Regions from separate parts of the Homo sapiens genome. Here all the other regions are reported to be linked to region 1. Evidence: microRNA targets listed by miRTarBase, many of them from high-throughput screens and not tested one by one. Region 1 holds a microRNA gene; each other region holds the end of a gene's coding sequence.

Region 1 (3,268 bases):
ATGAAATAAAAGTATGCTAAACAAGCAAGAAAATAATTTATTTATTTTGCTTCATTTTAGAAAGAAGAAGTAAATGAATGTGGTGAAAGTATTGACAGAAATAATCTGAAACGGTCACAAAGCCATCTTCCTTACTTTACTCCTAAACCACCTCAAGATAGTGCGGTTATCAAAGCTGGATATTGTGTAAAACAAGGAGCAGTGGTGAGTAGCTTAACAAAATACATGAAATAATGAAAAAGGATTACGTTCTAGCAAACTCAAATTAACATGGAAATTGTTTGCTTTATTTTATGAAAGACCCAAAGTGAGAGACCGGCATGCTGAGGAGAGTCAGGAGATAAAATAGGGGATATTCTCTGTTTATAATTCAATGCTGTTATTTGCTTGGTTTGCAGGGGGCCAGGAAAGTTAATGCCCATTACCACTGACTTTCAGTTTAAATGAGCTTTCCTAACAGTTTAATGTTTTAGAAAGTGTTTCTATTCATCTTTACTCATACTCAGGAGTGGGTCAGGGAAAGAGAGCTGTTGTGGGGAGATGGCAGGCCAGCGGCAGGAGAAGGAGTGGTGCCTAGGAGGTCTCTTCCTTGTTTAGGCATTGGCCTGACCTCCGTGGTAAGCTCTCTGACCTTGGGCTACTTACTTAACCTCTCAGGCCCTCAGTTTCTGTCTTAAGGAATATCATATAAAACCTACCATCTAGGGTTTTGTTTTGTTTTGTTTTTGTTTTTTAAGAGATGTAAATAAGAAAGGTGTGTTTCCCTTTGCACAGCACCTGGTACTTAGTAAAAGCTGTTATGGGTTAGCCCAGGTATTCCCATATAATCAGTTCCATGATGAATTTTTTGCAAGAGCAAGTAAATTTACCAATATTTCTAAGGTTGCAACATACCTTAGTATCTAAGCCATTCTTTCTATGTGAACTAAATCTTTAGAATTTCATGAGAAAATTAACTTTAAAGTTTGAAAATGTTTTTTAAGTCTGTGAGTAAAGAAATACTTAAAATTATTTTGGTGGTTCTGTTTGACTTCTCATCACTTTTTGGCAACTCTTAATTTTTTTAGGGCAGCCAGGGGAATGTCCTTTCACCTGTTTGACCTGCTTTAGGCTGAGGAAAATGATGGTGAGGGCAGGGGTTTCTTACTGTACAATGTCTGCAGGTAGAGTCAGAATTCTCATCAGGCTGTGATGCTCAGTTGTGTGTAGATTGAAAGCCCTAATTTTACACACAACTGAGGATCATAGCCTGATGGTTCCTTTTTGTTTTACTCTTAAGTCCAAAATACCAGTCAGAGATATTTAAGTGCTTCTGCAAAAACTGTTATTTTATTGACAAAAAATATTTGTACAAAATAGGTTTACTTTATTAAATATTTAGTGCTTTACTACTATGTATAAAGTACTTGTGGAAGAATTCATATGTTTTTACAGATGGAGAAACTTGATGTGGTTTAATAACATTTCCTGTGTTTGCTCTTTACATGGGGTTGGCGGGGGCGAGGAGTAGGAGGAAGGGGAAGTGCTTTTAAAAAAAAAAAAAGTTTCAACATTAAAAATATGAAATAGGCCAGGCATGGTGGCTCACGCCTGTAATCCCAGCATTTTGGGAGGCCAAGGTGGGCGGATCACCTGAGGTCAGGAGTTTGAGACCAGCCTGACTAACATGGTGAAACCCTGTCTCTACTAAAAATACAAAAATTAGCTGGGCATAGTGATGGGAGCCTGTAATCCCAGCTACTCGAGAGGCTGATGCAGGAGAATTGCTTGAACCCAGAAGGCAGAGGCAGTGAGCCGAGATCGCGCCATTGCACTCCAGCCTGGGTGACAGAGCAAGACTCTGTCTCAAAAAAAAAAAAAAAAAACACATAAAATCATACAATAAAAGATGAAAGCCAGGCACCAGAAATTGAATTAGGAATTCAAAGCCTGGGTAGCTAGAGAGGGATGAGGTTTAATTTATCGCATCTCTAAGGGAAGTAATGAGATTTTTCACTGCTTGGCATGTCTGATTGTGGGTTCATATCAGGGTAATTAAGTGGTGACTAACATTTGACATTCTTAGAAACACAAGTCTTATGTCTGTGTTCATCTCTGGTAGATGAAAAACTGGAAGAGAAGATATTTTCAATTGGATGAAAACACAATAGGCTACTTCAAATCTGAACTGGTATGTTGTTACGTCATAAATGTTGCTATAAGAATGTTTGAAAAGTGTTGCAATGTAGTGATTATATATAATTTCTTGTACTGTTCTGTAGTTTCAGAATAAGTCTAGTTTTTAGAGGTAAATATAGTTTATTTGGTTGTGATGCTTTTGGTTAATGATATTTTTCTTAAATACATTTTTAAGTAAAAAGATCCTATCTTCAAAGCAGCATTCCACCTTGAAAGATCTGAAGATCTCAGAATCCTCTAGTCTATAAATTTCCTCTAAAGGGGCTGTCCTCTTGGGGGGTTAGCCCCACGTGGAGTAGGGAGAGAAGGGCATCCACATGGGGAAGGGGTGGTGGCAGAGATGGGAGAATGGTCACATACACAGTGATTTATAAAATCAGGAACTATATTAAGTATAATAGAAGCCAAGTCTTTTCAGAGAAACAATACTTTTTGGTGAATGAATGTATATCTGTATATATGATGAGGAATGAGATATTTACATAGTTTCAAAGTACCTATCTACTAAAATAGGTATTAAGTATTGTACAAGGGGAAAAAGAGTAACATTACAGTGAGGAAAGTGGTGTAAAGAATTCTGTCTGTAAAAGTCAATATTTAACCCTCTGTATTTCTTTCTCTTGAGATTTTCTTTACCTATTTCACATTGACTCATAAATCACTTCACATAAGATGTTTTTATCTTCCCTGAAGGTAGAATCAGAAATTGAAATTCCCTCTTCGCCTTGTTTGAGTTGCATCCTTATTTAAAATATTGTAGGGTGATCTGAGTCCTGAAATAGCTTATTGGAGACATTGAATGCAATTCTGTAGTATAAATGTCTATCCTACGTCTTCTTTTTGTATGGGATCTTTGAGAAGGGAACTTATACTTTGTTTGAATGAAGTCACCAGAACAGCATTGTCCATTAGAACTTTCTGCACAAATGGAAATGTGCCGTATCTGTATTGTCCAAGGGCACTAGCTACATGTAGCTGTTGAGTGCTGGAAATGTGGCTAGTGTGACTGAGGAACTGACTTAATTTCATTTTAATTAATTTATATTTACATCATTACACACAATGGCCACTGTATTGGCCAGCAGAGCAC
Region 2 (3,000 bases), not on the chromosome of region 1:
AAGGATTTTTGTTAAAGAATTTATGTTAATTCAGGATAAAGACTTCAGTTATACATTACATTTAGTTTTTATGAGATGCTGAAAGATTAGAAGAAGGTAAATATGAACTATGATCCAGAAGGAACTGGAATTCTGTTTTTTTTTTTTTTTTTGGAGACGAGTCTTGCTGTGTCGCCCAGGCTGGAGTACAATGGTGCAAACTCCATTCACTGCAACCTCCGCCTCCCAGGCTCAAGTGACTCTCCTGCCTCAGCCTCCCGAGCAGCTAGGATTACAAGCACCTGCTACCATGCCCGGCTAATTTTTGTATTTTTAGTAGAAATCCATCTCTACTAATTCACCATGTTGGCCAGGTTGGTCTCGGACTCCTGACCTAGTGATCCGCCCACCTTGGCCTCCCAAAGTGCTGGGACTACAGGCGTGGGCCACCGTGCCCAGCTGGAACTGGAATTCTTAAAAGGACTGAAAAGGAGATAGGAAAAAGTGAGTGAAAGAGGCTTAAAGTAAGACAAACCATTGAATACATTTATGGGAAATTTTATAGTTTGCATAAACAAAGTATAAACTTAAGGCACAGTGAATAACTATATTGATAAACATAAACTAGCCACTATTGGACAAGTAGCAAAAGTAAAATTCAAGAAACAAAACCTTCATAAGTCACTACTTCCTTTTGTTACAATCATAAAATTTTCTGGGTAAACTCTAGATACTAGTACCTCTAGGGAGACAGGATTCAGAAGATCACTTTTAGACACACCTATCTTCACTTGATAACCAAATAAATATCTGTGAGTGAGAGGTACTATCTCGAATGAAGTTAAAAACAAATTAGAAGGAAAAGGTCAGGTTAGCATGTTTTAGAACTATTGGTAAACTATAATTCATGGGACATTATATAATCAAAAGATTAATATTTTAAGCACTAAGTTATAAAGGGTTTACACCCATGAATAAAAAGATTACCATCACTTACTATGAACCACCATTCCATGAATCCATGTAGCTGAACACTCCTAATGAAAAGTTTAATTATCCTTCAACCTGTAGTTGAAGAACTCAGTTCATGTTCATTGACAGATTTCCATTACAGACCCACTATATTGATGTTACTTTCTTTGACACTATATTTTATATAGATATATTAAAATTGAAAACTTAATGCTGTTTAGAAGGCTATTAATATAACTATTAATTTCTGAAAGCTTTGAGTTTCTGAAAAGGCTTTTAAGATCAAAATTTCTGAAACACTCCACACATTCTTCCTCACCCACATTTAATTATAAATCAATGTTATACTGATAAAAGGTTCTATACACACATTTAGAGATATATGTGTGTGTGTGTGTGTCTGTGTGTGTGTATATATATATACTTTTTTCCCCCCAAGATGGAGTCTCACTCTGTCGCCCAGGCTGGAGTGCAGTGGTGCAATCTTGGCTCACTGCAACCTCCACCTCCCTGGTTCAAGTGATTCTCCTGCCTCAGCCTCCCGAGCAGCTGGGATTACAGACGTGCACCACCACGCCTGGCTAATTTTTGTATTTTTGTAGAGACGGGGTTTCACTACGTTGGCCAGGCTGGTCTCAAACTCCTGACCTCAAGTAATCTGCCCACTTCAGCCTCCCAAAGTGCTGGGATTACAGGTGTGAGCACCGTACCTGGCCATATTTAGGAATATTTTCAAAATTAGCTTCACAATATATACATTTGTAAGGTTTACAAATAACCAAGTAGGTAGAGGAGTGGCCAACCAGATTCAAGTAAACTGTCCAGTCTTCACTGTTGCTACTTCTAAATGATGAATGACGGGTAATTTCATTAGGCTATCATTGCACCTTATACAATATCTAATTGCTCCTGATGGATTAAATCTATACCTGTCCCACTATCCCCCAATCCCCTCCAAACCACTTTTCTATAGGATTAACGCTGAACCGATAACATAACCAGGATGCCACATGGATATTCACTAGGTATTAACATTAATAAATCTATTCTATAAGTAGTGTTTTAATATTATGTTCAAAGCTAGTTATTTGAGTCCTGAAAAAGAATACAAGATTAAGTAAGTGGCTTGCATTAAAAAATGGAAGCCTATCTTAATATCTGGTGTTATAAATACAGATTCTTACATAAAACAGTTATTCTCAATGAAAGAAAATTCAAAGTGCTTCCATCTTGCTCCTTTTATTATATGGTGAAGCATCCTTAGTGTGAAATTAATGGTTAGATATATAAATGCATGGCATAACATGAGAAAATCTAGGAGAAAATATCCTCATTTTAATCTAAGACTATGGAATTATCAATTCCAATTAGACTTAATCAGCAACTTACCTTTTTCAAAAAAAGCAAATGCACAAATAGGCTTGATAATTTAACTCTTCTTAACTATTAAGGCTCTAGGATGTCCTTAACTTTTTTAAAAGATCATTTTAAAACCAAAGCACTAATTTCTATACACAGTAAAAACAGTACAAATATCTGAATTTCAGATCTGGCTTTTGCTAGATAGATCCTAAAAATGAAGAAAACATTTTCCCTTTCCAGATACTTTAATAATTTAAAATATAAATAATTGTATTAAGTCCCACTGAATAAAGAATGTGAAAGTTTTTGTATTAAAAAAAAAAAACTTAAGAGTTTGAAGCTTGATAGTCATTTCATTTTATGGTGGGACAGAGACTGGATTTTGCTTGCTTTCCATAATTACTTCACTGTCTCCCTCCATTTCAAAATTGACATTCACAAATGAGCTGGATATCACTGTCTCTGGTTGATCTGTCTGAACAATGGAATCAGTCTGCAATTTATTCTGTTGATATTGTTTTTCTGCTTCTTCAGACATCCTGTTTTCTTCTTCTTCTTCTTCTTCCTAAAAAAAAGGAGCAATATCAAGAATAGTTGAAATACGAAAGTCCAAAAGGTATATAGTGCTGTTTTCCCCACTGTCAGCTTATGTTTAAAAAAAAAAAAAAAAAAAAGTGTCATGTTCAA
Region 3 (3,000 bases), not on the chromosome of region 1:
CTTCAAAGGGAGCGCATCTTTTCTATGATGATATTATCAATAATGCCACATTATAGGAAAATACATTTTATGATGACTTGCTTTACATATATTTTGCAGTGTGTTCCAGATGTTACAACTGAAATACGTATTACTGTTGTTTTAATGCTCCCATTGAGCACCCTCTGGATGTCAGATTGAACAAGGAGGACACCATTCCATTCCAACTTTCCTTATAATACTGTTCTTTAACCCATGATTGTCCTCACCCTCCTGTGAGGACAATGCCCTATTTTCTCTATCGTTTCTATGGAATTTTTGTGCTGGCCAGACATTTTTTGCCTTCACTGTGTTAGTTTAATTTCTCTCACTAAGTTACATATATACTGAGGGCATTATGCAAATGCAAACAAGCAAAGGTAAATTGAATTTATACTTTATTAAAATCAAACAATACAAGCCTTAAAATTTGATTCAATAACATTATAAAACTATGCATCCTTTATGAAGTTTCAGTTGATATCTGATTAAAAAACACTTTGTTTCATAAGTGTTCAGTGATTTATGAAACTTTTAAAACAAATTAAGATGGGATTTATTACATCTTATAGCCATTATTGGACCCATTCTACATTTTGAAAGACTAAGAGAATAGGGTTAGCTATGGGAAATGCTGGCTCACTGGAAGAATCCTGCATTTTCCAACTTCCCCACTCCTAGAAGTTTTGCTAACAGGAATTGCAACTAGGAATGCCTCACCTGAAAAACTAATTTCATACAACTTTCATTAAGTAGTTTGACAATCTGTGACCCACAAATACTTCCATAGAATGGTAGAATTATTTATAATCAGAAATGATGGTGGGGTATAAAGGGAATCAAGAGAGGAGAGAAGAGGGCTAATGTTGTTTCTTCACCTCTCCCCATGAGAAAAATCATGTGAAATTGTTGCAAGACCCATGAAAGGAATTCATATATAATATTTCTGTACTATAAAATAATATGATTCTATTTGAGAAAAAATCATAGTACCTGAGTGCAAACAGTATTCACTGGCTTATTATAATCAATTTGCATGACTAATATTTCTGTTTGTTTTCTACTCAGGTGACATATTTGTTCGATAATGGAGGGACAGTCTTCTTTGCTATTTTTATGGCAATATGGGGTAAGTACTTTCTTCATTACTTTCTATCCCTTATTTTCTGAAGCTGTTTCTGTGTTACACACACACACACACACACACACACACACACACACACACCATGAATCAATTCAAAAATAAAGCCTCTAGGTTGGTACTTGATTTGTTTGCTCTCTTCATATATTCAGTGCTTCTTTAGGAATTTAACTCTTGATCTCATCCTCTAATCTCTAAAACCTAGACTTTCCTACATCAAGGAACATATTTTTTCTACCAAAGGAAGGTGGTAATTAAAAACAAACTGAAACATACTAGAATCCAAATTAATCTTCTTATATTATTGATTATGAAACTGATGCTCAGTAAAAAGTTGTTTGATATTTCCATTCATCTTTTTTAACCTTATGGTTCATACATTTAGGGATGCAGAATCTATTCCATTATGATTGAGCAATAATGTCTAATACATAAGAAATCCAGTTCCTATCTAACAACTTAAAACTGTACAAATTATGTACAGGTATATTCTTTGGTTAACTTTTTTTTTTTACCATGATTCTCATTGAGTTTTTAAGGCACCCAAATAATTGAAGCCTAAGATATATTAAGACAAGTTAAAATTCCCAAAACCTTTGAAGACTTTTAAAGAAGCTATTACTTTCCTGGGTAGGGTCAGCTTTCCTGCCATGGCCCCGTTGAATGCAGTCATTGTCAGCTTCATAACTCAGTGGGCTGATCATGTGTGTGCTGATCTAGAAAATTATAACGTACTAGAATACAGGTCTGTCATTTCTATTGCCTCAATTTCCCAATAACAGAAACTCTGGGCTATGTCCTCTTTTTAGCTTTAAGTCAAATTTTCTTTAAAAAGCACCCTTTCAATTTTCATTTAAGAAAATGCAATCTTGAATTATGGTACTAGGGCTTCAGGCAGAGCAGTAAAGAGTCATCTTCATTGTTTTAGAATTTTTTGGTGGAATAATTTTTATTATTTAGTTATGAGGCAGGGCTGTAATGGTGAAATCTTTTAGTTTTATCTGATTCCACAAATATTTTCTACTAAGAAAATACTACTAAAATACAAATTAAGGCTACTTAGTAAATGCCTCAGGATGGCCAAAAATTGTAAGAAAGAAAACCTTTGGATGATACATCCTGTCTACATTTCTGCTACTGGTCTCCTGCTTTTATGATTCTCCTTGACAAAATCCACGTGACAGTAATTTTGTGTAACCTTTTGAAAGATGAATTTGTCAAAAGGCTAGGATGTAGATGACACTTGCTGTTTAACGCCTTTTTGCTGTTAGTTCTATACAGAAGTACGAAGTGGAGGTATGTCATCCATAGGAATGCCATCACGTGCATTTTCTTCACTTTCTGGCATGGCTGAATCATTCAAAGTTGGATTGTAGTAGCTAGAATTCCCAAAACTCACATCATAAGGTTCCGGTGCATTGTCTAATCGCAGAACTAAAAAAGTAACAAAATAATACTGTTTCACAGTGATACTCTGAAAGATTCATGTTCAGGCATCCACCAAGTTATAGGAATTATTCTAGATGAGAAAATAAATATATTTTTATATGGGCTTTTTAGATTTTAGTTTTAAAATTTTAAATAAGTAGATGTTTTTCAAGCTTCATTTTTTATAAGACTAAGAGTACAGTTTTACTTCCAAAATTTTACTGTTGATGGACTCAAAGTAAAGGAACTAAAGAAGAGACCAGTATAGTATATCAATACCTTGCATAAAGAAGTGTAGACCATACCTCATTGACTTTTGAATCTTGTGATTTCAAAGCCTTGTCAACATGTTCAGAATTTGTCACTTCTGGTGTAAAATTTTTTTAAGTGAAGTCAATAATTTTTAAATTAAT

Evidence for each region. The annotated mature microRNA hsa-miR-3941 reads UUACACACAACUGAGGAUCAUA and lies in region 1 at 1,226-1,247, shown strand. An mRNA with a match to its seed (bases 2 to 7 or 8) in the 3' UTR can be bound and repressed. Matches are read on the target gene's strand: a 7mer-m8 pairs with bases 2 to 8, a 7mer-A1 pairs with bases 2 to 7 and ends in A, and an 8mer does both.
Region 2: the mRNA of FAM177A1 is a reported target of hsa-miR-3941. Seed matches in the 3' UTR shown: 7mer-m8 at 1,315-1,321.
Region 3: the mRNA of MUC15 is a reported target of hsa-miR-3941. Seed matches in the 3' UTR shown: 8mer at 1,202-1,209.

The regions. Positions count from the first base shown.
Region 1 is chr10:122,415,799-122,419,066 of GRCh38, forward strand. MIR3941 (microRNA 3941) reads left to right here and starts at 1,167; the gene lies at 1,167-1,269. It overlaps PLEKHA1 (pleckstrin homology domain containing A1), which reads left to right. Exons shown (of 12, transcript NM_001001974.4): 7 at 61-204; 8 at 2,102-2,170.
Region 2 is chr14:35,080,900-35,083,899 of GRCh38, reverse strand. FAM177A1 (family with sequence similarity 177 member A1) reads right to left here. Exons shown (of 5, transcript NM_173607.5): 5 at 522-2,878. The coding sequence ends at 2,672. It overlaps LOC101927178 (a long non-coding RNA gene), which reads right to left and starts at 2,819. Exons shown (of 5, transcript NR_110415.1): 1 at 2,341-2,819.
Region 3 is chr11:26,558,633-26,561,632 of GRCh38, forward strand. MUC15 (mucin 15, cell surface associated) reads right to left here. Exons shown (of 5, transcript NM_001135091.2): 5 at 400-2,593. The coding sequence ends at 2,433. ANO3 (anoctamin 3) reads left to right here. Exons shown (of 27, transcript NM_031418.4): 14 at 1,087-1,147. Among named protein-coding and RNA genes, the nearest start is that of MUC15, 12 kb to the right of the region's middle.